3 linked regions of the Homo sapiens genome follow. The protein of the gene in region 3 interacts with the protein of the main gene of each other region in a pairwise test. Each region holds a gene or a part of one and is shown on either strand. Other genes may lie near its edges.

The links. The genes of interacting proteins can lie anywhere in the genome.
Region 1: the proteins of PER2 (region 3) and LMO4 interact in binary tests that used the Homo sapiens proteins (3 or more experiments, as listed by UniProt).
Region 2: the proteins of PER2 (region 3) and CRY1 interact in a two-hybrid assay, tested with the Homo sapiens proteins (5 studies listed by BioGRID, with this or other methods).

The regions. Positions count from the first base shown.
Region 1 is NC_000001.11:87,324,344-87,331,978, forward strand, and holds the start of LMO4 (LIM domain transcription factor LMO4), read left to right. Parts: upstream 1-4,536; 5' UTR 4,537-4,901; intron 4,902-6,883; exon of another isoform or gene 6,884-7,471; intron 7,472-7,635. UniProt on the Homo sapiens protein: Transcription cofactor. Plays a role in establishing motor neuron identity, in concert with MNX1, acting, at least in part, to disrupt LDB1-LHX3 complexes thereby negatively modulating interneuron genes in motor neurons.
Region 2 is NC_000012.12:106,992,451-107,000,143, reverse strand, and holds part of CRY1 (cryptochrome-1), read left to right. Parts: intron 1-61; coding exon 62-202; intron 203-281; coding exon 282-593; intron 594-2,077; coding exon 2,078-2,229; intron 2,230-2,453; coding exon 2,454-2,656; intron 2,657-2,757; coding exon 2,758-2,850; intron 2,851-7,107; coding exon 7,108-7,179; intron 7,180-7,253; coding exon 7,254-7,357; exon of another isoform or gene 7,358-7,693.
Region 3 is NC_000002.12:238,257,227-238,264,919, reverse strand, and holds part of PER2 (period circadian protein homolog 2), read left to right. Parts: intron 1-1,861; coding exon 1,862-1,968; intron 1,969-2,575; coding exon 2,576-2,729; intron 2,730-3,082; coding exon 3,083-3,191; intron 3,192-3,966; coding exon 3,967-4,092; intron 4,093-4,866; coding exon 4,867-4,951; intron 4,952-6,275; coding exon 6,276-6,423; intron 6,424-6,519; coding exon 6,520-6,644; intron 6,645-7,693. UniProt on the Homo sapiens protein: Transcriptional repressor which forms a core component of the circadian clock.

The DNA of each region.
Region 1 (7,635 bases), on a different chromosome or scaffold from region 3:
TCTTTCCTATTATCTTTTTCACCTTTCTATCAACTCTAGGAGTTTCAAATACCTTAATCAAATAGAATAATTAAAATCAAAATCTACATCTTAAATTATATTTCCAGTCACAACAATGTCAATGCTGTTTCCTTTTCCTCAGTGATCTGTTATTTTCTTGCCATAAAATCAACTTCTTCACTATGCTTGTTTATTACCTTAAAAAGAGTAGTTAGGGTAGAACTTCCTAAATATTGATTAACATAATTTGGTGGGATACTTACCCAACGTAGTCATCTGGATTGCTTTAACAAAAAACAAACAATAATATTCTAATAAGGCAATTATTAGAAACATTTATCACATGAAACATTTAGTGAGATATTTATAAAGAATTTTGAGAAAGACTAAAAAGGCAGTCAGTAAATTCAAAGTATTATTAAATATTATCAATATTTTAAAGCCAAGATATGGTTCCGTGAAATATAGGCTTTTCGAGATGTTGAGTTCTAGGTAAACTCTTATTATTATTATTATTTTGCGACAGGGCCTCACTCCCATTTCCCAGGTTAGAGTGCTGTGGCACAATCATGGCTCACTGCAGCCTCAACTTCCAGGGCTCAGGTGATCCTCCCACCTCAGCATCCCCAGCAGCTGGGACTACAGGCACATGTCACCACACCCAGCTAAAGTTTTGTATTTTTAGTAGAGATGGAGTTTTGCCATGGTGCCCAGGATGGTCTTGAACTCAAGGGATTCACCTGCCTCGGCCTCCCAAAGTGCAGGGATTATAGGCGTGGGCCACTGGGCCTGTAAACTCCTATTCTTAAATGAAGCAGCAGGTCCGACTATACTTACTGTGCCATACACCCTGCTGCTCAGACGACAACGCCACCACAGAAAACTGGCCCAGGACCTAACCTGCCCTTCCTCTTCCTTGGGTTTTTTCTGTTGGTAACTACTGTTCCCTTTTCTCTCCACACCTTTTACACTCTGGAATTGTTGTCCTAGACTCAAGCTTTTTGTATTCACGTTGGAGGAAACTGAATATCAAGGGATCTCTGTGATGGCAGCAATAAAGTTGAGCAGATTTTTAAAAATTTTCCTTCCTAAAAAGACTTTCTTCAAAAACGGTTTTGCATTGACTTTAAAAGGACAGAATATTTTTTCCTGAGAAAGAGCTGGGGCATGTTGTCTTGGAGGTCATATCAGCATCAAATAGCCTAGACTTTCTCCAGACATTAAAGGCTGCATAGGTCTGTGTAGAACCTCTGGCTGTCCATGGGAGATTCTTAGCGAACTGTCACTTGGAGAAAAGAATGATTATGATTGAAGGACATAAACGAGAAAGGAAGCTATGAACAAATAATTTTGGGGCAAGTGGAGAAAATGACGGCTTGATCTAGGAGCAGTATGGTTCCCACATTTAATTAGGATTCAAGAAAGAAACGATTTACATTTATCTTTCTTTTCCAAAGCCCCCTAATCTTATATCTCATTGCAGATGAGTAGGATGAATGATGAATGTGTGATATCAGCAGAGGTTTCGTCAACTGTGGGGCACAATATAACATTATTTCGAGTTAGGCAATTTTACTTCATACCAGGAATATTACTTTATGCACTGTTTTTAATATTTGTTTGAAGAATATCCGAATACAGAATTTCTTTACCCATACTGAATTTGTGTGTGTTTACAAGGTTTTTGTGTTTCGCATCAGTGGAAATAAAAGATTGACGTTGCTACCCACTCAACCAGGCATTTTCAGACCACAAATCAGGATGAGAAAGGACTGCTAAACGCAAAGAATGCAGAAATAAAGATTACCCAGAGGTGGCGCTGTGGTAAAAGTACACCTGAATTTTGATTACAGTGAATGTATTTACTCCCTACCTCTCAGAAGAGAGACTGTTAGCCATTATCGCTTTTGTATTTCTATAAACACACATCAGCAAATAAAGCTCTCTGGTAATACACTCCCATCCACTCCAATCTACCAGGACATGTTTAAAGACCTCACTCCGCACAGAATTAGAGCTGAAGCACTAAAACCACCTCCTAAAATGTAGGCCCTGTAGCCTAGAGCTCTGTTATTCAAAGTTTTATCCATCTCACTCTCCTTCCTTCCACAAACACCACCGGGATCCTCTGGATAATCACTCAATGATAGCTGAACATGTGTCTGGTTAAATTTCTAACATTTCCTTCAGGAATTAAGATTTCGTTTTAGTGCATATTCTTCAGGAAAAATCCTGAAAAGTACCACAATTCGTTATACATCTATGCATTATGTGCTCTATCTAAGAAAATCATTTTTAAAAAGAAAAAATAAAGACCATTTGGCTTAATTCTCTCATTTGTGGATGAGAAAATTAAGGCCCAGAGACGGAAATTTACTTGCACATGACAAATCATAACTTAATTGTAGCCCACTAAGATCTTGTGTCATCTCCTTTTATTATAAATTATTTAAAAAGTGAAAATGAACCAGGGGATTCAAATGTATTATTTGTTTATGGTGTTCCTCTCCTCATCTGGTTTAATTGAGTTTTCTTGACTAACCTTCAAGCAGCATTACATCTTTTCTAAGTTGGTCCTCTTTAATCATGCCCATCTGTAGCTGTTTTCTGTGTAGGACATTTTAATTACTATTATAGTTTTAATGACTTTTTTTTAAAAAAAGTTTTTTATATGTGCACAAGGTGAATTCATCATAGCAGTGCAACTTTAAATACAAATCAATAAAATTAATTCATTTAATTTTAAGGTGCTAGAATTAAAAAATGAGTATTTGAATTGATATTTAAAATGCCCTCTACCTGACTGTATGGGCAATAATTATTCTTTCTTATGCAGCCTTATTAATTTTGATGGTTTGAAAGACAGAAATCCCCCAAATAGACACTAAAACCCTAAATGTTCAACATCTGCATTGTCTCGCCAGATTCTCCTTCAGGTTCCTTTCCTCAATCTAGCAGTACTGTGTGTAACACAATATGAAAACTTGCCCCACAAGGCTGGTTTTACTTAATGATACTTAGCAGAAGGGCTTTGCACTTTCATGATAATTTCCACCAGAAAAATCTCTCTGGAACTTACTAACAATAATCAGGCCTAATATTAGCCTCAGTCTGGAGATTTATTTAACCTATTTGGCAGAGTAGATAAAGTCGAATGCCTAGGTATTCAAGCATCTAGGCTGTGCTTCGGCCTTGGAAAAAGACTCTCAGGCTAGCACCCTAAAAGCATTCCTCAAAACTTGATTTATACTAGAAGTGACATTTCTTACTCTCTAGAGGCTGTGAGATTGCAAATCTTGCAATTACTTCCATTGCTTTTGGGGGCTGTGAGAATTTCCGCCTCTCATCCTCCACAGTGAGGAGGGTAGTCGGGAAAGGCTTTCTCCCTTAAGTTTTCGTCAACTTTGAAAATAAGGACTGTGCTCCCTACATCACCAGCAATTGACAAGGATCCAGGAAATGCCTGCTAGGCACTTTCAAACTCGGAAAAATGGGAGTATGAGGGAGGCTAAGTAGGCAGTATTTAGCTAGCAACTATTATTTCCTTTATGTTTCTACCTTGTTAACTAAGCTTCCACTACGGTTCATAAATCTCCAATATCGTGAATTAAAGAAACAACAACAAAAATCCTCTTCTGTGTGCTTGTGCGTGAGGGGATAGAAGTCCACTGCCCTAAGATGCAGGACTTATCTTCCCAAACAGGAAGAGACCCATTTCTGAGAAAGATGGTAAGTTTCCTAAGGGTCTCCTCTCAGATAGAGGGGATGGCAGTCCCCGAGGGGCGAGCGGGCGCGGGTCCTCAGGGTCCCCGTGCGCTGAGAAGGCAGGTGAGGCCCCGCCCTGCGTCTCGACTCCGGATCCCGGGTCGCGAAGGGCAGCCCAAGCGGGTCCCCGGCCCCAGGCGCCCGGGTCACTTCACCCCACCTGATTCGGGCCCTTCCCTTCTCCTCTGTCGGCCAGCTCTGCCGCCTCGCTCTCTCTCCCGCCCCCCGAGTCTCGTTTCAGTCATCCCTTTGTCCTTCCCCGGATTGGCAGGTTTTATTATTCCGCCTGAACAATCCGGCCGCCCAGTGGCTGAGGGTCGCTGACGTCGGAGGCAGAGCCGGGGAGTAGTTGGGATTTTGCTCTGTCAGTAACACATGTGTAAGAGCCGCGGAGGGAGCGAGCGAGCCGGCTAGAGGCCAGCGCCGCCGCCGCCGCCGCCTCCGAGCCGGGCAGCAACAGCCCCGGCAGCGGCGCAGGCTCCAGCGCGCCGGGCCCGGCCGGCCGCAGCCCCCGACGCCTGGGTGCGCCTGCCTGCCGGCCTCCGCACCGTCCGCCGCCGCTCCCGGGGCTGTTGTGTCTGCGACTGCTCCCGGCCGGAGGTGCAGGGAGCTCAGCCGAGCCGCCGCTGCCATCCCGGAGCGAGCAAGCGAGCGAGCGCGCGGGAGGGAGGAAGGCGGCGGCGGAGGAGGAGGAGGAGCGGGAGGAGCGCGGGCGGGGGCGGGGGCCCCCGGGCGGGGGAATATACAAAGTGAAGCCACATTGCCAAACTTGCAGCAGCGATTGCAGCAGTTGCTGCCGCTGCGCCGCGCCTGAAGCCGCGCCGCGCGGGCCGAGGGCTCCTGCAGCTGCTCGCGCGCAGTCGGAGGCGGAGAAGGACGAAGACTGAGACTGACACTTCTGCTCCCGGCCGCCCGGCACTTACGCGGGGGCCCCCCAACCCGCCCCAGAGCAACGCGATTTAAAAAAAAAAAAAAAGCCGCCCTTAGCCCCCTCCTCCCCTTTCCTGCTTCTGCGAGAACTCCCTCCCTCCCTCCAGCTCCGCCAGCCCAGGCGCCCCTTCCCTGGAAGCCGAGCGGCTTCGCTCGCATTTCACCGCCGCCGCCTCTCGCAATATTGCAATATAGGGGAAAAGCAGGTAAGGGGGCGGGTGGAGAGCCGCGGGCCGGGAGGTGGGAGAGGGAGGGAGGGGGTCGATTCGGGCCAGGGCTGTTTTCTTTGGCTTCCTTCCCCTGACCGTCCCAAATTGCAAGTAAACAATACGTCGGCTTAGATAAAGCGCGAGTCTGAAACTACCGAGGCCGGCCTGCGAGCTAGCGCGGAGGGCAGCCCCGGGCCGCCAGCTTTGTAGCGGTTCCTGCTTACAAAAGGGCTCTTCTTGGAAACGGGGCTGGTGGGGACCGTAGAGGGGGTGGGGATATTTCTAGTTCATAAGGGAAAGGCAAGGGGTGCTTAGATGAGGATTTTAAGTATGAGAAGTAGTGTGTTTGGGGGGGTGGGGGTGGGGATAGTCACGATACCCCCCCTCCCTTCTAGTAAACACTATTTTTGAAACAGTGGCAGGAAGGATCTAAGTGAGCAGGATTCGGTATTGCTGGTTCTTTTAAAAAAATTCTTCTTGGCTTATAAGTCTTTTGTTCCAATCCAGGAGAAATACGGTGAATCACCTAATTAAAATCAAGACATGAATTAAGCATCCATTTTTGTACTACAAATTGCCAGCGTTACGTTTGTCCCTCCCTTGGTCTCCATTAAAAAACACCAGAGACGTTGTTAAAGGGGGGCAGATTTTGCCTCTAGCTGCCAGTTCTGCTTTCTATTTCACTGACTATCCCAGGACCTAAATTGCTTGGCTATGTAATTACTAGAGTATAAGCCTATTTAACTTAAAAGCTTTCTTTTTTTTTTTTTTTTTTCCAACTCTAAATGAAACTTGATGAGGGCCCGTCCTTAGTTATCAGGGGAGTCAGTTTCTGGTCAGTCTTCTTGATTCATCTCTTTTAGATTTAATCAGCATTAAGGTATTGCTTGTCCTTAAGAGCTTTAGCTAATGGGGTTACTGGATGCTTTTCTCAGTGTAATGTTTCCTTTTCAAAAAAAAAATACATATATATTTACCTCTCACTAAAGATGGGGGCGGGGAAGAGCTTGGAATCTCCTCCCTCACTCTCCTTTTAAAAAGGAATTCGGAGCGATTAAAACGTTGGGGGAAACAGTTTAAAGATCTAGGGCAGGAAATGCAGATTCATTTGGGTTAGGGCTGAAATTGTAACAAAAAGCAATTCCTCGAGTAAATGCATCAGATAAATCAATTTACATAAAGGTATGATGCATTCGGATAAATGCAATGCTAATGGGTTTTAGAGTGGTCCTGTTTCCAAAGTCTCAGGGTTTTGTTACAGCTTAATTGGTGCAGTTCTTATTCTGGTTTATTGTGCGGTCACTGGACACACGTTCCGGGACTCTTTCGGAGGAAATGTGTTTAAAATCGGCCTATTTAAGGAACCCGAGTCCTTGTTTCGTTCCTTCCTCGTTTTTTTTGCAGCAGCCAAGTTGGGCCGGGTACAGGCAAAGTTCGCCTTCTTCTGAGGTATCAGCTGAATGTCTTGAGCAGATAGCCGGGAGCCTCAGGGGGAGCCCACACTCTCAGCTTACAGAGGACAAAGACAATACAGGCTGCTTAATTGGCAGTAAATAACTTGATCTTTTTACAGAATAAGTGACTAGAGGAACACTAGGACTTTATTGGACTCGGGATTGAAGGCAACAAATTAATCGGTTTAGGCTAAGCTTTATAAATTGATTCCTATATTATATCCCAGTTGCATCTCTTGTGGCATTCATTAGAGTGGGGAATTCTTTTTTAAAGCAGTTTTTGGTGACAGCAGGACGGGCTCGAATTTAACTTGTGCATCCCTTAATGGTGCCTTCTCGCACATTATCTGTAACGCCGCCCGCCCCCCCCCCCCCCCCGCCCTTTGGAGGAACAAAGCTTTAGCATTTAAATTGCTGATCAAGGGCAGATTAGTGAGACCAAAGTGGAGAGTGTTTGTATAGGAAGTTAACAGGCATCCTAAAGTTCAATGATCTATTATTCTTGCCTGTGTCCTGAAAACCCAGAGAAAACACTCATTGATCTTCAAAATGAAATGAGATTTGGAACAATAATGGGAGATGGCGGTCACCACAATGGCATGTGAAAGGTGCTGCTTAAAATACGAAAAACCAGTTTCGCAACTTTACACACTGCACCCACCCCTCCCGTCACCTTGCCTTCCCTCCCATCACCACGCTCTCCGTCTCCCGTCTGCCGGTCCCTCCCTCGTTCCCTTTCGGAAAACCGAACTATTTCCAACTTGTGAACTGCAGCTGCACTTCCCGGGGCAGAACCCGGGAGGGAACGAGGCTCCGGCGGGGCCGCCGCCTCCCCACTCCTCTCGGCTCTGTCCCGGGGCCCGGCGGGGGCTGGGGAGGGGCCGGGCGCGGCGGTGGGTGGGTTTGACCCTCATTTGCTGGAGGCGGGCGGCGGAGGAGGGGAGGAGGGGGCAGTGGGCGGAGGCGGGGGCTGGGAGGAGGTGCCGCGAGGGGTGGAGCGCGCAGCGGAGCCTGCTCTCGGAGTTTTGACAGTACCGGAGCTGAAATTGTCAGCGGCGGCAAGCGCAGGAAAGTTGAGAGGAGCTCGTGGCCCCAGAACAAAGCTTGAGAAAAGTAAACAGGCGGCTGCTGCCGGCGAGCCTCCCTTCTTCCCTCTCCCCCTCAGCCTCCTTCCCGCCCTTGCCCTGCTGTTTCCTTCCAGCAGCTCCGCGGGGAGGAGGGGAATGGGCTTGCTCTCTCTCCGGCGATTACTAACTTTTGCATCGCCCCTGTTTTGT
Region 2 (7,693 bases), on a different chromosome or scaffold from region 3:
GAGTGTTCTTTTAAAATGAAAAAGACAATTAGTTAATATAATTTTCTCTGTGTGTTTTCAGGCTTGGGTGGCAAATTTTGAAAGACCTCGAATGAATGCGAATTCTCTGCTTGCAAGCCCTACTGGACTTAGTCCTTATCTCCGATTTGGTTGTTTGTCATGTCGACTGTTTTACTTCAAACTAACAGATCTCTACAAAAAGGTATTCTCTAAAATTAGAGCTTATTGTTTAATACTTTAAAAAAAAATTCTGATAATACTTCTTTGCTTTTTAACCATAGGTAAAGAAGAACAGTTCCCCTCCCCTTTCCCTTTATGGGCAACTGTTATGGCGTGAATTTTTCTATACAGCAGCAACAAATAATCCACGCTTTGATAAAATGGAAGGAAACCCTATCTGTGTTCAGATTCCTTGGGATAAAAATCCTGAGGCTTTAGCCAAATGGGCGGAAGGCCGGACAGGCTTTCCATGGATTGATGCCATCATGACACAGCTTCGTCAGGAGGGTTGGATTCATCATCTAGCCAGGCATGCAGTTGCTTGCTTCCTGACACGAGGGGACCTGTGGATTAGTTGGGAAGAAGGAATGAAGGTAAGTGTTCTAACTGATATAGCATGCCTTATTTTGAAGGAATCCTTACCTTAATAAAACAAATCCTAGAAGTTGTCTGTTTATAGATTCATTTATGGTGTAGTTTTTCAGTGGATAAAACATTTAATTCCCCAAATACGGGGACACTTTCAGAGAAAAATGGTATAATCAGACAAGCAAAAAGGTGAAAACTGGTTAAATTGATTAACCTAAAGTCATTTTAATGGTTAAACCAGCCTAGCCACTAAGAGAACTGTAAAATTTAACACTGAATTTGTTGATAGATATATTTATAGGTGATATTTCTATCACGAAAAGAATTCACTAAAGAGTTCCTAGAGATAGTGAATTCATATTATAAATTTTAAAATATAAATCATTTCACCTCACTTCTCAGCTTTTTAGTAATACTTCTATTATGTAAAGAGAAGCATACTACATTTTGTGACGACATCTTGTGGATTACACGTAATAAGACTTAGGTACTTTTTTTTTTTTTTTTTTTTTGAGACGGAGTCTCTCACTCTGTAGCCCAGGCCGGGGTGCAATGACGTGATCTCAGCTCACTGCAACCTACGCCTTCCAGGTTCAAGTGATTCTCCTGCCTCAACCTCCCGAGTAGCTGGGATTACAGGTGCCCACCACTGTGCCCAGCTAATTTTGCATTTTTAGTAGAGAGAGGGTTTTACCATATTGCCCAGGCTGGTCTTGAACTCCTGACCTCAAATGATCCCCCTGCCTCAGCCTCCCAAAGTGCTGGGATTACACGCATGAGCCACCGTGCCCGGCCATTACGTACATTTTTTACCTTTCTGGCAATACCATACATTTGCCCCATCCAAGGACCATTTCTGAGCTTGTGTGTGTGTGTGTGTGTGTGTGTGTGTGTGTTTAATCTCTTATATTTCCTAGTACACCGTTGTATACAAAGACAATATATAACATACTTAATGAATATATATAAAAATCATTTATTTTAATTCTATTTTCTTTCTGATCAAGGAATTCGAAATTAAACTATGTAATGCTAGTATATATTTTTAAGTGAATTTATATTTGAGTATGCTTCCTTTATTTAGGCTAGAATATGAAGCTAAGTTTTTGTTGGTGTTTTATGTAATAGCATTTTTGCTTTCTTGAAAGTGGTTGACTGCTTTTCCTGTGTCTACTAATAATATCCTTTTAAATCCACATCCTTTTAAATCAGTGATTTGAATATTTTTTTTACCTTCCATTCTCCCAGTAACACTGCAGAGGTTGGAAAAGTAAATTCTCTTCAGAAGCATACTATATTACCACTATGTTTCTTTCTCTGGAAGAGCTCATTATAGAACAGAACATAGGGAAGCTAACTTTGGAATGTTTAATTTTACAATTCTGTGCTAGATTTTCTTTGCCTTGACTTTGGCTCTACTGTGACCTTGAAAATGCTTGCTTTGCGAATTATGTGTGTGCAAACTAATTGGTTACTGTTACTTCTGAAGGTATTTGAAGAATTATTGCTTGATGCAGATTGGAGCATAAATGCTGGAAGTTGGATGTGGCTGTCTTGTAGTTCCTTTTTTCAACAGTTTTTTCACTGCTATTGCCCTGTTGGTTTTGGTAGGAGAACAGATCCCAATGGAGACTATATCAGGTAAATCAAGGGTGATTACTACTCAGTTTGGAATAGTTAATTCAAGAAGAGCTTTTCATGTTTAATCAATGCTTAAAGTATTCCCCACTCATGATGGGCAGCAGAGATGAGAAGGGTAAACAGATCATTTAAATGGTCTTGATTTGATTTTGGTCTGTCATAGCTAGTAGTTATAGTTTGCTTAGAGTGCATTTTATTAGTAATCTTTCTTTTTTCTCCCAAAGGCGTTATTTGCCTGTCCTAAGAGGCTTCCCTGCAAAATATATCTATGATCCCTGGAATGCACCAGAAGGTATCCAAAAGGTAGCCAAATGTTTGATAGGAGTTAATTATCCTAAACCAATGGTGAACCATGCTGAGGCAAGCCGTTTGAATATCGAAAGGATGAAACAGATCTATCAGCAGCTTTCACGATATAGAGGACTAGGTATGTTAAGAACTGTCTTTGTTTCTTTGGCAGCTGTTTATGTACTTATCTTTGAATTTTATCTTGATCATAATTTAAAAGAAAATTTTTTTGTCCTTTAGGTCTTCTGGCATCAGTACCTTCTAATCCTAATGGGAATGGAGGCTTCATGGGATATTCTGCAGAAAATATCCCAGGTTGTAGCAGCAGTGGAAGTAAGTGAAAAGGAAATTTCTGCACTTAGTAACATGAAGAGGTTATTAAACAAATATATTTGTTATTGATCCTCACTAACATATTTTATAAAAATCTGTCTTTGAAATTAGCTTAATAGATTCTTTGTATGCATGCATACATGTGCACCCAGACACATCTCTTCACTCCATTGATGACATTTTAGAGATGGAAAATATCATTACGTATAATAGATACTGGGTCAAGTTAAAGCTCTTGCAAACTGAGGAGAGCAATTTTAAGGATAAAATGAAACTCAAATGTCATATTTTCAGAATGCTTATTATTTTTTACTCCTTAGGTGTATGGCAACTATAAGGTAATTAGTTAAGAAAGTCAGTGGCCCTGTGAACATGGCCAAAAGATTTATTGTACACATGCATAGAGCCCTCTAGTCTTTTTGCACATAAGTTTTTCTTATAAAGTCTGGTCTGTAGTAGTTTTCTGTATGATACAAATTTAGTGACCATGTAAATTCTTATGTGTGATATTAATAATTTCAGGAACTCAGTATGTGTTAGAAATTTGAACCATCATATTAGTTTTTGGCTTTGACCAAAAATAGCATGAAGCTCAGTAATTTGATTAAAAAATAGGACAGCATCAGTGAGAATGGTGATTATTAAAAAGTCAAGAAACAACAGATGCTGGTGAGGATGCAGAGAAAAAGGAAGGCTTTTACATTGTTGATGGGATTGTAAATTAGTTCAACCATTGTGGAAGAGAGTGTGGTGATTCCTCAAAGATCTAGAAGCAGGAATACCATTTGACTGAGCAATCCCATTACTGGGTATATACCCAAAGGAATATAAATCATTCTGTTATAAAGATACATGCACACGTATGTTCATTGCAGCACTATTCACATTAGCAAAGACGTGGAATCAACCTAAATGCCAGTCGATGATAGACTAGATAAAGAAAATGTGGTACATATGTACCATGAAATACTATGCAGCCATAAAAAGGAACGAGATCATGTTCTTTGCAGGGACATGATGGAGCTTGTAGCCATTATCCTCAGCAAACTAAGGCAGGAACAGAAAACCAAACACCTCATGTTCTTGCTTGTAAGTGGAAGTAGAATGATGAGAACACATGGATACATGCGGAGAACAACACATACTGGGGCCAGGTGCAGTAGCTCACACTTGTAATCCCAGCACTTTGGGAGGCCGAGGTGGGTGGATCACCTGAGGTTGGGAGTTTGAGACCAGCCCCTGACCAACATGGAGAAACCCCCGTCTCTACTAAAAAGACAAAATTGGCCGGGCGTGGTAGCGCATGCCTGTAATCCCAGCTACTTGGGAGGCTGAGGCAGGAGAATCACTTGAACCCAGGAGGCAGAGGTTGTGGTGAGCTGAGATCGCGCCATTGCACTCCAGCCTGGATAACAAGAGCAAAACTCCATCTCAAAAACAAAAAACAACAAAACACACATGCTGGGGTCTGTTGGGGGGGCAGGGGCAGGGAGAGCATTAGGAAGAATAGCTAATGCATGCTGGTCTTAATACCTAGGTGATGGGTTGATCTGTGCAGCAAACCCCCATGGCACATGTTTGCCTATGTAACAAACCTGCACATCCTGCACATGTACCCCAGAACTTAAAATAAAAATTGAAGGGAAAAAAAAGAAAAAAGAAATCTATACATGTGATAAAAGAGCATAAAATCATACAAACACTTTGTATCAATGTCAATACCTGGTTATATTGTTGTACTGTAGTTTCATAAGATGTCACTAAGAAGATAGGGAAACAGGACCTCTTTGTACTAACTTTACAACTGTTTGTGAATCTATATTTTTCAAAATAAAAAAAACAGGATAAAAACAGGGTAGCATTTGAGGAATGCTTTTTTAAGTCAGATGTTCTAAGTTGATATTAAGAATAAAACCTTTTAAAAACTGAACCTTTTTGAATTCAGAAATGTCCTGCATCCTCATGAAAACAGCATGTATTTTATCCTCCAAGAATTAGTTTTGGGAGAAGGGGACAAAAGCACTCACATTTTGACTGCCTACCTTTGCCCAGTAGATAGTAAGGGATTTTTGCATACTTTCTCACAGTAACCTGGGGAGGAGGTAGTGGGATCCTCATTTTATATTTGGGGAAATAATCCTAGAAAGATTAGGTAACTTAACCAAGATCCCACAGTTAGTAAGTAGTTGAGCTAAGATTCAGATCCAAGTCTGACTAGCTCCAAAGCTTGTACTTCTTCCTGCATCATTGGGCCTCCTCTGCAAATGGAATGCCATAAGTGTTTACAAGAGAAAATATTTTATTCCTGGAATGTGATCCACCCAGCAGTCGACAGTTGCCAGTGATGGCAGTATACTTGAGAAATGTTCCTTCTCAGTATCTCCTACAATTTGAATAAACTTCCACAAGATAATCATTTCAAAAGTTCTTTCAGATCTCTTGTTCAGTTCACAGCCTGCCTTGTCAGCCCACACATGAGTGAGGGACAGAAGCTCTGTGAAGCACTAAGATAACAGGCAGGTAGCAATGGGCTAGGAACCAAGGGTTGGGCTAATACACAATGATGGCACAGACTGCTTCTTAGACCACTCAAACCTGTGTCGTTTATTTGGAATTATCTTCAAAAGCTAATCATAGTAGCAGGTTAAATTGGGACAATTTTGCTTCACAAATGTATATAGGGTAGTTTATTATATAATAGAAGAATTAATAAATCTTGAAATTATTTTAATCATGTAAATATTTGCCTGTAACATAGTTTGTAGCCAGCTTCTTGGAGGCTTTCAAAAGACATGAGACATGAAAAGCTAAGTAGAACTTAAGTATAAATGGGGGTGTGGAGGGAAAACAAAAACAAATGAAAAAGTGATAAATTATAAGATGCTGCCTCCATGTGCAATATGAGAAAAGGGAGAGATTATTGAGAGCTGAAGGGACTAGAGAAACTTTCTTGAAAGGTGGCAGGATTGAGTAGCATTTGGGTAGTCAGATGAAGGAAAAAAACATTTTAGACCTGGAAATGGGAAATTGTGAAAAGACACGGCTTGGGCTATGCTATTAATATTAAACATTTCTCCTCTCAGGTTTCTGCCCCATTTGAAAGGACTTAAATGCTTCTAAAGCATATCCTTTTATGCCTTACACTTATCCTGTCTGTAGGCTTTTATAGTACCTTACAAGGCATGTCAAAGGGCAAAATTCTTTTACTTGTCTTAGTTTTTTGTTTGTTTGTTTTTGTTTGTTTTTTTAATGACTGTGGAACATTCTTAATCTCTGCAACACAAATTGCATTTTTCTCTGCTCATCTTTGTATTTGTGTGTGTGTGCACATGTGCTCAGGAAAGGAATAAACTATACATAGAAGTCTTACTTTTGTTCTTATAATAAAACAGACTGTAATATGTTTACTACTGTAGCAATATGTTTTAGTTTTTATTTAACTTTTAGGTTTTTTTATTGTAAAATATCAGTTCATCGGCATTATTAGTCATTAGGGAAATGCAAATTAAAACAACTATGGGATAGTACTTCATACTCACTTAGGGTGAGCAACTGCCACTGATTGCCTGGGATTGAAGTTAATTAAAACGAAAGTAAGTGCACAGTCTTGTTCAGGCCATAAGGTGTTGACCTATCCACCTGCTCGTGGATAGGTCCAGAATGCTCATATTTTTCCATAAACTGGACACACTGACAGAAATGTTTCCCTAAAACATACTTCTCTGTTCTAGCCAACCTATTCTCCTATAATAGTGTTTGTTTTTAGAAGGGTTGATAGGATTGCTTAGGCTAGGTAACTGCCACATAGTCTGTGTCTTCTGCTTGTCGTATGATTTGAATTGTTTAACTCATCGGGCAGGCCCTTATTCCCTTATCCTCAAGGAAATATGTTTGGAGGAGCTCTGAAGGAAAAGCGTGGGAAAAGGGACAAGAGTGAGGGAGGAATGTCTATCTCACTCTTGCCCCTATGTTTTACCTTCATGGTCAAGTTTCAAATTGTCATCTAGTAAGGAAATGTTTTTTAGAAAATGATCATCAATGATTTTTCCTTTGAGCTGTCAACACTTCTGTGAGCCTAAATTTAAGTTTTCCTGGTTTGAGCATGTGATTTTTGGTTCATAGGAAGATTGAGATTTAGTCTTAAAAGCATATAAATGACCTTAAGTACAAGCGCTAAAAGTTGGATTTGTAGACTTAATAATACATACATCTTGGATTTGATTTTAAGTAATTTTACTGTGTTTTAAATACTAACAGGTTGCTCTCAAGGGAGTGGTATTTTACACTATGCTCATGGCGACAGTCAGCAAACTCACCTGTTGAAGCAAGGTAAGAATGAAGCATTGGAGCATACTGTTCTTTTTCCTTTTCCTATCTTAAACATACATTTTTTAAATGTGCAGGAAGAAGCTCCATGGGCACTGGTCTCAGTGGTGGGAAACGTCCTAGTCAGGAAGAGGACACACAGAGTATTGGTCCTAAAGTCCAGAGACAGAGCACTAATTAGGTAAATATTTTAGAGCTGTATTTCTTGCTTTAGAAGAGTATATAATTAACATAAATTAAGATAATTTCAAAAATGGAGCAAATCTCTATTTTCAAACCAGAAAATCTTGAGGCATTAATTTTTAAGCAATTTTTACAAACTCAGTTAATTTTTGGTCAAGAGACATGCATCTGTACTGGAGAAATTGTTGCACCAGTTTTATATTCATCTGAACCAATGCTCTTTAAATTAGAGATGTTTATGATTTTGTGGTCAAGTTTTTTCTTAGAAAAAGACAACTTTTTTATTTCCTTACTATGTAACTATGAGTCTAAAACAATTAAAGTGGCCTGTTTA
Region 3 (7,693 bases):
ACTTATAATCCTAGCACTCTGAGAAGCTGAGATAGGAGCATCACTTGAGGCCAGGAGTCTGAAACCAGCCTGTTTGAAACCAGGAGTTCAAAACGTAGCAAGACCCTGTCTCTGCAAAATAAAATAAAAATTAGCTGGGTGTGGTGGTGTGCACCTGTAGTCCCAGCTACTCAGAGGCTGAGGCAGGGGGATCACTGAGCCTAGGAGTTCAAGGCTACGGTGAGCTATGATTGCACCACTGCACTCCAGCCTAGGTCACAGCAAAAGACCCTGTCTCAAAAAAATAGAAAGAAAAAAAATGTGTGGGCCACTGGCAGTAGTCACCGAAAAGTGACCTCAGAAGATACCACAGGAAGTGGACCAAGAAGCACCAGTGTGCTGGGTTCCTAAAATGAACCAGGTCACCTAGAAGCTGGAGGATCAAGACCTCTCCCTCCTCTACTCTTGGCCCAGGGACACAGGCCCCCATCCTTGGAGTCAGGGCCACACAGCTTCCTGGGGAGGCTCTATGGGTAAAAAGGGATCCGTCACTTCCAGCTCCAGGTGGCTCAGGTGTGTCCGCGGGGCTGCCTGGGGCAGAGCCAGTTTGCAGATGCAGGCTTCTGGACACCACCCTGCCCTGTGGAACCAGGATCTTGGAGGGCAGGGCCTGGGGCCGTATATGTAAAGCAGCCTCTGGAGACTTTTCTTCCTTCAGAGATCTGAGAACTGTCTCTAACCCACTCCCATGCCAACTTGGTGTCCAGCTCAGCCCTGTGCAGGGAGGTTGGCAGACAGGTTCACCTGGCATGATGGGCCACAGCCTGCAAGCTCTCCTTGATGAAGCCTTGTGTGTGGCCTGGCTCACAAAGCCCAAGGACAGCCAGGGCTCCCCCTCCTCCTCCCCTCCTTCTTTTCACCCTCCACCCCCTTTCTGCTCCCTCCTCTTCCTCCTCCCCCTCTTTTTCCTTCCTGTTCCCCCACTCCTCTCCTCTTCCTTCCTCTTCTTCCTCCTTCAGCAAGGCCTTGATGGGACGGATGCCAGGAACATTCTGTATATCCTGTCCAAAGGAAAACATGAGGCCTGAAGAGAGAGCCTCAGACAAGAAGGAGGAAATCAAAGAATAACGCCAGGCCCTTGAGAAAGTTCTGCACCATGGTCTAAAGATTCACAGGGAAAATCCTTCTACACAAGCAGCAGAGTTTGAGGAAACATTGGTTTGGATGCAACAAGTGTTAAGAGGCAGATCGGGAGAAGAAATGGTCGGTGGAGCCGGCAGAGGGCGCTGGACACAAACAGAAGCAGAAGGTGCTGCTGAAGTTCAGCTCCGTCCTGCAATGGAGCAAAGCCACAGCTCTGGGAGGAGGCATGAGCTCAAAGGGCAGAGGCCCAGCCAGCCACCGAGACTCCAAAGAAGCCACAGTAAACCAACTGGATGCTGAGGCCAAAGTCACACGAGACCAGGCTGGAAAAGAAGCACATACAAAGGGTTTTCCGAGGCCCAGGCAAAACTTGTTAAGCAAAAATCCATGCCAGGTCACATGTGGCCAAACTAATGAATGACACTGAAAAAGAAAAAGATGCTGGAAGGAAGAAAACAAAAGCATGATCATGACTTATCTCTTGGGAGGTGAAACGCAGAGCTGAAGCACTCAGGCCCCAGCAGAGGGAGCCTCCTTCAGCGTCCTGGACAGTGAACCTTCGTTTGCTATTGATTAAAAGTCTAGCTGGTTCTGTTAGTCCAACTTTTGATCTCCGGGGGTGGGGGAGGGGGTGGGGTTTGGAGTGTATCTTCTCTTTCCAGGGAATAAGATGGTTCTTAGTGACAATCTCCTCATCTGTTTGGATGCCAATCCTAGCGTGTGTCTGCTTGCCTTCCAGGGCGGTCCCTCTCCTGGGCTACCTACCTCAGGACCTGATTGAAACCCCAGTGCTCGTGCAGCTCCACCCTAGTGACAGGCCCTTGATGCTGGCCATCCACAAAAAGAGTAGGTCCCCTTTTCATGGTACATCCTGAAGTGTTTGGCGGAAGTTCCTGTGTCCTTGGGGCTGCTTCTTGGGACCAGTCTAGCTCTGACAGGTCAGATCAGCTAAGGACAAGCAGGTGGTAGACGCCCGCCTCGCCGCCTCCCTCCTGGCACTGCAGTGCCCAGTGGAGTCGAGAGAGAGGGGTAAACTCATGTGAGTTCCTTTGTGGCCAGTTGTTTCTCAGTCCGTGGCCTGAGTCCGTAGCATCTTATGTTTACTGTTGGCTTCAGTGGCGCATGGGAGGAGGGGAGACCAGTTCATCTGTGGCTAGGAAGGTTCTCACCAGGCCAGGGGAGTGCACAGTGCATGTCCTCACCAAGCCCAGCCCTCATAGATGCAAGTGACACTAGCAGAGGTGAAACATGGGATGAAACAGCTCCTGCTGGAAACAGCCTCCTGGTAATCTACAGCAAAAACAGGAGGTTGAAAGCAGTGGCTTTGAAGAAGTGTTCATACCCCTACAGTTTGCAAATGATCCTGGGCCTGAGTGACTCTTGACTTGTCTCTCTCTACTATAAATCCTGTTTGCTCCCCTTTTCCCCTGAATGCTGGCTTTTGCTCTCCTAGTCCTGCAGTCAGGCGGGCAGCCTTTCGACTATTCTCCCATTCGGTTTCGCGCCCGGAACGGAGAGTACATCACGTTGGACACCAGCTGGTCCAGCTTCATCAACCCATGGAGCAGGAAAATCTCCTTCATCATTGGGAGGCACAAAGTCAGGGTGTGAGTGCTCCAAGGGCCCGAGGTGGCTCAGGGGTCTTGGGCGGGGGTCTCGGGCTGTCCTCACCTCCCAGCAACAGATGGCATAGGGAGGGGCTGAGAGGCCAAGACCGAAACCTTGCTTCCTGCCACCAATCTGGAGCCCCAGACTGCTAGGCAGGGGTGACCTGTCCTCTGCCCCCAAGTGGGAGGGACCTCATTCAAGCAGAGTAGGGAGTGGACAGGCAGCAGCCTGGGGGGCTGCAGGGGAGAGGCAGAGGGCCCACCCAGGCAGGCAGCATGTAGTGGCTATACAGTCACGCCAGAGAGGTCCTCCTGTGGGGCCCCATCTAACAAGATGAATTAAAACCACGCAGGGGCCCTTTGAATGAGGACGTGTTTGCAGCCCACCCCTGCACAGAGGAGAAGGCCCTGCACCCCAGCATTCAGGAGCTCACAGAGCAGATCCACCGGCTCCTGCTGCAGGTGGGTGTGGTGCCTGCATGTCCTCCTCCCAGGTAGCAGCCTGAGAGCCCCCTGCAGAGGACATAGGCTCTGAACCCTGGTCCTGGCACACCCACTCAGACAGCTTCATCTGTCATTCTCTGAACATCCCCCAGGGGACAGTTTGGGCATAGACTGTGCTAGTCCGAGACAGTCCATAGTACCCTTGGCTCTCTCCAGCCTTGCATTCGACCTTGTCTGAACTGCAGCCCTGAGTGAGTAGCTGAAGGACGTGTGCAGACCCCGTGCTCTGACACAGGCTGCATAGTTCCAGAGTGACCTCTCAGTGGTGCGGGGGCTCATTCTAATCCAGAGCAGTGGGACTTAAGGGAGGGACATTGTACTCAAGGTCCCTAAAAAAAATCAGGCCCACTGCAGTCAACCCCACACCTGAGTAGGCGCCTGCCTGTCAGTTCCCGGAGACTGTGGAGTGAAGCTGTCATCGCATCTTGTTTGTTTTAAACCCATCCACAGAGGCGTGGCTGGCTGCAGCCATGCGTTGATGAGCGGGTTGGACACATTCCTTTGGTGCCGTCTCCTCGGTGACTGCATGTCTGGGTCGGGGCACCGCGGCTGGAGGCCAGGAGTCTACCTCTGGAGCTGACCCTGGGGTTCAAACCTCAGCTCCCCTGGTCTCTGCCATGTAGCCTTAGGCGGGTCGCCATCCTCTCTGCGAAACAGGGTGTGTTGGCAGGGGGCCACATGCATAGCTCAGCAGCCCTGGCTGTGTCTGTAGCGCTGTCTGCTGTCTCCCCAGCCCGTCCCCCACAGCGGCTCCAGTGGCTACGGGAGTCTGGGCAGCAACGGGTCCCACGAGCACCTTATGAGCCAGACCTCCTCCAGCGACAGCAACGGCCATGAGGACTCACGCCGGAGGAGAGCCGTACGTCTCCTTCCATTCTCCCTGAGAAAATGAGTTTGTGGATGTCCCTCCAGAGTTAAAAAGCACACTCAAGACAACCTTTGGCAGTTAGGAGGGGCTTCCTGATTGCAGCTGTTGCTGCTTCCTTTCTAAACTTTGTCCACTTGGGACTTTTTAATCTCTTAAGAGTTGAAAGAGCTAGAAACCATAGCTAAGTGTTGGTTGAAAATTATTTAAAACAGACAAAACAAGCAAAAGTGAAGATTTAACTAGGATAGAAAGAAGAAAATGTGGGCTGGGTGCGGTGATTCACACCTGTAATCCCAGCACTTTGGAAGGCCGAGGCAGGCGGATCACCTAAGGTCAGGAGTTCAAGAACAGCCTGGGCAAGGTGGTGAAACCCCGTCTCTACTAAAAATACAAAAATTGCCTTGCATGGTGGCGCGCCCCTGTAATCCCAGCTACTCGGGAGGCTGAGGCAGGAGAATGGCTTGAACCCGGGAGGCAGAGGTTGCAGAGAGACAAGATTGCGCCACTGCACTCCAGCCTGGGTGACAGAGCAAGACTCTGTCTTAAAAAAAAAAAAAAATGTAATGTGCCGTTTTGCTTTATTTTTTATTATTCTTTAGGATCATCAAATAGGTTTTATCTAGCTCTACACCTGTCAGATTTCTCATCCACAGTTTCCTTCTGTGTTGCTGAAATTATTTCAGCCATCCTCTGTTCTCACTTTGCCGGACAGACTGAAGGAGGTCTCCTAGAATGAATAATGTGTTCATTTTGTTTTTCTTCAAGGAAATTTGTAAAAATGGTAACAAGACCAAAAATAGAAGTCATTATTCTCATGAATCTGGAGAACAAAAGAAAAAATCCGTTACAGGTAAAAAAAAAAATATTCAACATTTCCTTACTGAAACTAGAGTATGGCCACATGAGAAGAGGGAACCTGGGTTAAATGCTGACTCTGGCTGGCAGGGAGTCTACCTTGTAGCCGTGTCACACCCCCTTCTGCGTTCAGCACAGTCTGCAGCTTCCAAGAGGCGAGAGCAGCCCAGTCCTGCACTCAGCCAGTGCAGGCACTGATGTCCACACTGGGCACCTGATGCCCTGCAGGCCTGGCGGGGTGTGGCTAGGTGTGCAGGCCTGGGGAGCTGTGACCAGTGTGCCTTCCTGCACCCTGGCCTGCCAGCAGGGTGTGCCTGGGAGCCACGGCCTGGGCCGCTTGTTCTTGCTGTACAGAGTAGCTGTATGGCTGTGTGTTTACACTTGCAAACCCTTCACTCACACACACACACAACTGCCGACGGTTTGCCCAGCATCCACATACACTCAAACCAAACCTGTCTGAAGTGGGGAGTACCACCCAGGGGCTGCCGACCCACCCCCACTGCAGCAGCCCTTTCCTACCACAGCGCCACACTTCCCAGGCAGCTTCACAGTGTCATGCGCGGGTTCAGATTCATGCTGCTCCTCTGTCCCGCATGTATTTCTCACACAGCATGCACACAGACACGTGTGCACACATGCATGCATCCCAGTCCCCTCCCCCTGGTGGGCCCTTGCTCATTCTCTGTGCTCAGGCCGAAGCCTCCCGTGGGGAACACTCTGGCCAGACACCGCTAGGACTTTTGGCCTTGGGGATGTGTTGGTGGACATGCTGCCTGCTGGACTCTGTGCTGGGTGTTGGGGACACGCTAATGAGCTGGACACAGCTCTTTGCTTGAGGGTCCCTAGGGGACAGGCATGTGATGAATGTCGTTGGGGCAAGAGTCGAATCTGCAGCACAGTGAGCAGGCAGTTGTCATCATAATTGTTACTAGCAGGGATCACCTTGAAAACACTGGCCTGGCCCAGGAGGAGCATAAAGTACGTGGGCTCTCATTGGCCCTGAAAGTTTAAGAGTTCAAGTGAGAACTGCTGTCTCCCACTGCTGAGTCCCTGACCCCTGGGGACAGCCTAGACCCCAGAGAGAAGCAGACACCAGGCTGGGCAGCAGCTCCCCCCCCAGGTCTCTCTGTGGACGGCACTGTGGTGCTCGTGCCCACAGGGCTGCCAGATGCCAGGCTGTCCCCAGGCTTCCATACTCATGAAGCAGATTCTGAGTCCCCAGCCCTGTCTTCAGGTAGAACGAAAATGCTTTGTAAATACACAGCGTTTTCTGTGGGAGAAAAATGAATGAAAGAACAATTTTGCCATTCCTTCAGAAATGCAAACTAATCCCCCAGCTGAGAAGAAAGCTGTCCCTGCCATGGAAAAGGACAGCCTGGGGGTCAGCTTCCCCGAGGAGTTGGCCTGCAAGAACCAGCCCACCTGCTCCTACCAGCAGATCAGCTGCTTGGACAGCGTCATCAGGTATGCCGGCATTTCCAGCCGAGTCTCCACCATCTCACACACCTTCCCTCCTCTCATGTTGTGTGGCCTCACCAGTGGTTCATGCCTTTCACACAGGTACTTGGAGAGCTGCAATGAGGCTGCCACCCTGAAGAGGAAATGCGAGTTCCCAGCAAACGTCCCAGCGCTAAGGTCCAGTGATAAGCGGAAGGCCACAGTCAGCCCAGGGCCACACGCTGGAGGTATCTAATCTGTGTAGAGCCATGTACATGTGAAATAATGTAAATCCTCTGGAGTAGAGTCAGACGTCCCCATGGCTTCTGTGGACACAGTGTAAGGGTGTAGGCTGTTTTTCAAATGATGAAAGTAGTTCAAAAGTCAGCACCCTTCTTAGGAACTAGAGGCAAAGATGGTTCTGTCAGAGCCTTGGCTTTGAGAACAGGAAGCCAGTGGGGCTACTGGAGGCCTGGGGCCGTCCCCTGACCCCCCTCATGCAGACACACTGCAGGGACATCTCCTGGTCCCCTTCATGCGGCCACACTGAGGGGCCGTCTGCTGACCCCCTCATGCAGCCACACTGGTCTCAAGTTGTCAGTCTAGGGCAGGCCCTCTTTCCAGTGTGTCTCAGAGGGGCCCTTGGCCTGAATGTTAACATGGCCCATAAATCACATTAAATCCCAGGCTGCTTAACACAACGCTGTCAGTGTTGCTGATGTTCACCACCAGGATTAGAAATGGTACCCCGGCTGGGCGCGGTGGCTCACGCCTGTAATCCCAGCACTTTGGGAGGCCGAGGTGGGTGGATCACTTGAGGTCAGGAGTTCAAGACCAGCCTGGCCAACATGGTGAAACCCCATCTCTACTAAAAATACAAAAATTAGCCAGGCATCATGGTGCATGCCTGTAATCCCAGCTACTTGGGAGGCTGAGGCAGGAGAATGGCTTGTACCTGGCAGGCGGAGGTTGCAGTGAGCCAAGATTGCATCACTGCACTCCAGCCTGGGTGACAGAGCGAGACTCCATCTCAAAAAAGAAAAAAGAAAGAAACAGGGTATCCCGGATTATGGTTGGCTCCTGACTGTCGGAAAGCCCCTCCCCACAGGCCTGCAGAAGGGCTGCCTGGCTGCAGGCAAGAGCCCCTCACCAAGTGTGCCCTGCAGCTGCCAAGCTGCTGCGCCTCCCTGCAGAGGCCTCAGGATTTAAGTGTGTAACTGCTCCCATTTCAGAACTTTCTCTTTTCCACTATTCTTCTATGAATAAACATTGGGGACAAATCACCCCATGCCTGGGC